Regions from separate parts of the Homo sapiens genome. Here region 2 is linked to region 1. A link means that fine-mapping ties the variant in region 1 to the expression of a gene that starts in the linked region. Tissue or cell type: whole blood. Region 1 holds a variant in brackets; the other region holds the start of a gene. All regions are shown on one strand. Distances are between the middles of the regions. Region 1 overlaps MANEA (mannosidase endo-alpha). Region 2 holds the start of MANEA (mannosidase endo-alpha).

Evidence for each region.
Region 2: MANEA starts here. The variant in region 1 is fine-mapped to the expression of MANEA in whole blood (INTERVAL, PIP above 0.99).

The regions. Positions count from the first base shown.
Region 1 is chr6:95,599,159-95,602,073 of GRCh38, forward strand. All of the region lies in intron 3 of MANEA (mannosidase endo-alpha), which reads left to right. Among named protein-coding and RNA genes, the nearest start is that of MANEA, 23 kb to the left of the region's middle. The variant C/T (reference allele first, on the strand shown) is at 1,349.
Region 2 is chr6:95,575,983-95,578,897 of GRCh38, forward strand. It overlaps MANEA (mannosidase endo-alpha), which reads left to right and starts at 1,553. Exons shown (of 5, transcript NM_024641.4): 1 at 1,553-1,656. MANEA-DT (MANEA divergent transcript) reads right to left here and starts at 1,469. Exons shown (of 3, transcript NR_104136.1): 1 at 1,111-1,469. RefSeq lists silencers at 1,293-1,372, 1,423-1,512, 1,793-1,852 and enhancers at 1,649-2,589, 2,053-2,152.

The DNA of each region.
Region 1 (2,915 bases):
GATACTGAAAATTTTAGGAAATAAAAATTCATTGTTAATGAAGTCCTTAGTAACCAAAGTTCTTTAGCTTGATAAAGGGTGTCTCTTAGTATCTTATTTCAAACACTATATCTGATGGATATACTACACCTGTAGTCCCAGCTACTACTCAGGAGGCTGAGGCATGAGAATTGCTTGAACCTGGGAGGCAGAGATTGCAGTGAGCTGAGATTGGTGCCACTGCACTCCAGCCTGGGCGACAGAGTGAGAGTCTATCTCAAAAAAAAAAAAAAAAGTGATGTAGGTTCTTTTAACTAGAGACCACTCTGAGATTGCAACCACTCTTAAAATTTGCTGAAGCTTTTTATTTGCTCTGTAACTTCTTGCAGTTATATTCTAATGGAGGACAATCTGGTTTGTCCAATACTGGTAATTGAGCCCTGTAAGATATGTTATGGACCACTGTTGAAATATTTCGTTTCAAATAAAAATGTGAAACATTAGTTTTGTCTTAATTTTCCTTTTGCAGCCTAGAGATTGAGTAGTTATTGGAGAATAGAAATGGAACTGTAGGGAGTGAGAAAGAGCTAAATAGGCAAGCATTTTTTTATTTCTGTCCATAAAGCTGCCTCTTCTTTCTGATTTACTATCCTGAAACTGTTAAGACAGCATCTCTCAAATTAGCTGTCTAGCAAGAGCTGTCACCTGCCATGTCCCTTGGTGCCTTTCAGTGAGTTCTTATTGGCATTTGAAATCTGCAAATAGGCAAGCCTCCAGGTTCTGGTGCCCAGGCTGAGGTTGGGTAAGTGATTGATTTATCTTCCACAAAACAAGCCCAAGAGCTGCTTTTCTGTCCAGGCCCTGCCAAAATCCTGGAAGATGGAAGCTCAAGAAACTGGCTATTTTAGTACTTTCAGGAAGTTTTGAAAGAGAAAATGAAAATGTTATGATATATGAGGATTGGTTGGCTTTTTCTCCTGTTTAAAGTGTCTGTGTAGAGAAGGAGAGTGTGGCAAAGAGCTCGACCACTAATTGCCTATTTAATGTTGCCAGCATACTTGATCTCTCTGTGCTAGGGATTTTATATCTAATGATCAGAAAAACTTGGAACACGATAGACTAATGTTTTCCAAAATTTTTAGAACAGTTTCTTGGCCTCGTGTATGGTGAGGAACTATGTATAGACAAAGAATAGACCTGGAATCATGAGACTGGAGCTTGTTCTAACTGAGTAGCTCTGGAATCTTATATTAGTTCCTTGATCTTCTTGGCTTATCCCCTTCATTTGTACAATGACAATGAAACCATAAGATAGTTTTATTGGATTTGTCTATGATTTCTGTTGTTGTGGAACAGACATTTTTCCTAA[C/T]TCAATAAAATGCAGTAAATCCTGTTTTTTTAAAGAATGGAAAACTTTCCCTTTTCTTGCTAATATAAGGAAATTTTAATATGTTTAATGAATGACAGTACCTTACTAGAATTATTCAGTGTGCTAAGGCAATCTGATAGGAAAAGATTAATGATGTTGTAGATTGTGTGCTGACAAATTGGAGCCTCCAATGCACATAACTGACCACATCTAAAACTTTTAAGTGTAAAATGCGTTCATTAGTAACATCTCTTTTTTCTTGCTAGTCTTCAAAGCATGGAAATACTAAATGGATGGAGAATTTTTAGGGAATGAATCCGTCTCACAGTTAAACTTTTGTTATAGTTCATTCATTTTGATTATATAATGTTTTTACTAATATTAGTCATTAAATATTTTGTAATTGTAATTTTGATTTGTTAACTTCAACCAAGAGTTATTTTAAGTAAGTGCCTTTTAAATTATAAACAAACATGCAAGAAAAGGAAATGATTGGTGCTTTAGTTATTTTTCATTATCTTTAGCAAATGTGACTAGGTTTTTTTTTGGAAGTGTAAATGAGTGAAACTAAAATTTAAATCTTGATTTTTCAAAGCGATTTAGTTTCTGTTCTTTTAAAGTATACTTGTCTGCATGTTTGCTAGAGCAAAGGCTGTTGCACTTATAACTGTCATTTAGTAGGCTGGTTTTGCAGAGAGTGTAAAAATCAGGGCTGGATTCCTTCCTCTATATCCTGCACCATTAAGAACACAGCAACGGAACAATTTTTTGAGTAAGACATGACAGAAATATTTGGTAGATTCCGTCATTGTTTAGCAAATAATCTGGTTTTCCTTCCCCTGCATGCAAAGAGTAAGTATACTTCCTGCCCTGTTGTTGTTGGGTTTGGCCTTATGGCTTGCTTTGGCTGATGAGATGTGAGAAGAGATAATGTATACTATGTGCTTGCATGATTATGCTCTTATTCTCTTTTATAAGAAAAGCATGCCCCTTTCTGCCTAGGACTCAGAATGACAGACACGTGGAGCTGATTTGAACCAGCCTGGAGCAGAACCATCATAAGCCAGTTCATAGATTTTATGTTCGAAAAGCAAATGTTTGTCTTTTAGAGCCACTGAGATTGTGGGGTTGTTACATGGCATTATCTAATCAAAACTTGACTGAATTAAATCATTCATCTAAGTAAAAGAAAATTAGGCAGATTCAGTGATTTTTTTTTTTTTTTTTTTTTTTTTTTTGCTTAGGATTATAGGGGAAAGAACCAACTCAGCCCTGGTGATCTTCTTTCATTTTAATAAATTTAGTATGTTATTTTAAAGTAGCATATTTTCTTTCTACTTTATGCAGAAATCACATTTCTTATACTAGGTTTATCAACATCCATTATTTCTTTGCATATGGCTCTAGAGTCATTTTATCTGCTTTTCAGGCTTATGCAGATTTCAACCATGTGAAACATGAATATAAGTATGTCCGTGATTCTTTTTTAAATGATTTTCACCTACATTTGAAACATGTTATATTAGTCATGGCCTCTCCTTTTTCTTTTTCCTTGTTAAATGAATAT
Region 2 (2,915 bases), 23 kb before region 1:
GTTCATTATATTATTATTTGTCCTTTCTGTGTTTAAAGTTGCTACAATTAAACTTTTAAACTTGTAGAAGAAAGAATAGTTTCTGATGTTATGTTGGGAAGAATCTTGTAAGCAAGAAAGCAAAAAGCACAAAATTAAAATGTAAAATATTATTAAATTCAAAAAGCTGTATACTGAAGCATAAAGCTTTTGGCAATCAAGAAACATCATAAAAACTGGAAAGACAGTCCATAAACTAAGAGAAGACATTTGCAACACATGTAACTTACAAGAGAGAATTAAACTAGAAAAAATAAATATTATCTACAAAATAATTTTCAAAAGCAAGCAATTTAATAAAAAATGAGATAAAATTAAGAACAGGCTTTAGCAAAAGGGAAAATGCAAATTAAAAGAGCAATCAGATGCTCTTATCAGCAAAAACTTAAAAAGTCTAACAATAGCATAAGGGTAACGATGTGCCAGTCTAGTTTATGGGAAATGGACTTGTATACAGACGAATCTCAAAACCTCTCAAAACCTAAATTAGTGAAAAAAGGGGAAAAATGAAGAATGATTCACATATGAAATATAAAACTAGGAAAATAGTATTTTTAGGGAATCGTACATATGTAACTATTTTCAGAAATACAACGGAATGAGTAATATAAAATTCAGCATAATGGTGAACGGAAGGAAGGAGATGTTTTTAGAGAGTCTTCTTTCTAGAAGACTCCAAAAATACTGGCATTTTTTTTTTCTTAAGCTCTGTAGTGGGTACCTGGGCATTTTTCATTCTTCTTTAAGATATGCACATGAGATATACTCATATGTATATTTCCCAATTAAAATTGGTGTACAAAATCTTTTTAAGGAGAGCCCTTATGAAACTGTTCACATCAGCAAGTTCTAGCTTGAATAAGGACTTCCTGTTACTATGTAACCAAACAAAAGATAGCATTTTCTTGTTTTCTGAAGCTAATGTAAGATGGAAACCTTCAGTTGTAATCCTATTTCAAAAGTTCTTGCTCTTCACATCTGACTTATCCTCAATTATTTCTAGTACTTCAGTACAGATGTGATTTTATAGAATACATTCGCAAATTAAAAACGCCATCTCCATCTGCCTACCTTGGGCTTCCAAGTAAAGTTCTATTTTTACAAAAATCAAAACAGTTCCTCAACTTTAAAAGTTTGAAAACCAGTGTACTTGTAAAGCACTTGATGCAAGCAACTTCTGAATGTTTCACATAAAAACAAACAAAAATGTGTCCTCTGTAATACAGTTAGAGCCTCCCAACAGAGCCTCAGAAGACCGTTTCTAAAGGCAGTGAGTTCTACTTGCAGAAATAGGGCGGGAGTGCAGTCTGACTCCAATCCACACGTCCTTCCCCTCTGACAGAACGCCCCAAAACGCAGTCCTCTCTTTCTTCCGCGCCGCTCCCGCCCTAGTCCTCTTAGACCCGCGACCGGAGGCTCCGGAAGACCCCGAGCCCCGCCCGCTCCGTGACCCCGCCCCCACCCGTCCCGCCCCTGAAAGCGCCCGGAACGCTGTGCGCGCGCCTTCGGGGAGGAGGGGCTGTCTGGGCTCGGGGCGCGGCGGCAGTCAGCTCTATGTTCGCGGTCTTAACCTCTCCTCTGGCCGAGTCCTTGCAAGAAGTGAATTACCCGACCCTGGTGAGTAGCTGCAGGAGTCAGACCTCTTGGAGGCGGCGGCGCCAGCAGCGGCGGCAGGCACGAGGTCCACCGCGGGCGCCTGCGCGCTCGCCCGCCAGCCAATCTGGTGGCCGCTTTCCTCCGGGCGCCCTTTGACCCGGCGCCCCTCTGGCAGGCGCTGGTGGCGCCCAGCGGCGAGCCTGTAGCCCCCTCGATTAACCTAGGCTGTCACTCTTAGGCCTGTTTTAGTCTGCGTTAGTTTTACTGCCTTTTACACTGCTTTATCCCCACCTCACTGGCCTCGTCGCCGCCTCCTCTTTGAAACGGTACCTCCTGTCGCCTCGGATTTTCCTTGTCTCCCCGACAAGGTGGAAATTTCGGGTCGGATGGAAGCCTTTTTCAGCACCTTCTCCTTGTGCCCCCAGACTGCCTCTGGGCCTTGAGCCGACCGGGAGAGTAGAAGGATCGAGGCCTGCTGGGCTCTGGGTGCAACGGAAAGGTAGCTGTCGCCTCTGGGCATCGGGAGGAGACCGCCCGATGGCGAGGCCGCTAGAGATGGTTTTTCAGTTCACCTGTTAACGTGTTTGGCACTGTCATCTTAGACTCTTAGCCTTTGCTAAGTCGGGATGCAACAGTGCTGGATTAGTGTTTTTGTTGTTCCTTTTTCCAAAGAAGCAACTTGAAGTACAGGCAGGTATAACTGTTTGGTTTTGTTGTTGTAAGACCCTACGGATAAGTGTTAGGAGAAAATGTGGAAGTGCTATAAAACAACAACAAGGGGGGGATAATGTTGATTAAGAACTTGAAAATAAGAAAAATGGGACTGGAATAGGCTGTTCACGTTAAAGTATTGAGGCAGTAGTTTGAAACAAAAATATAAAGTAAAACCTAGATATTGGTGATACTGTATCACGTTGTTTGCAAATCACTTTCATGACAATACATCTATTTCAGGTGTATCACACCTGAAAAAAACATGAGTGCTGTGAATTTGTGGATTTTCAGGCTCAATGCAGAAAAACACCCCCCAAAACAAAAAATCACAACAATGAAAACACCATTTCCAGAGCTGTTGCTGTTATTCGTGTGACGAATAGTGAATGTATGATCATAAAATAGAATAAGCTGTCTTTAGATGAAGTTTGGGCACAGTTTATGGAGTAGGTAACAGTTAATCATTGTTTATTAGGTACATAATCCTTAATTGAAAACATAACCATATAGCAGCAGCTTTCATCTTGTGTCACAAAAATAACTGGTGTATCCTCTAAATTTGATTT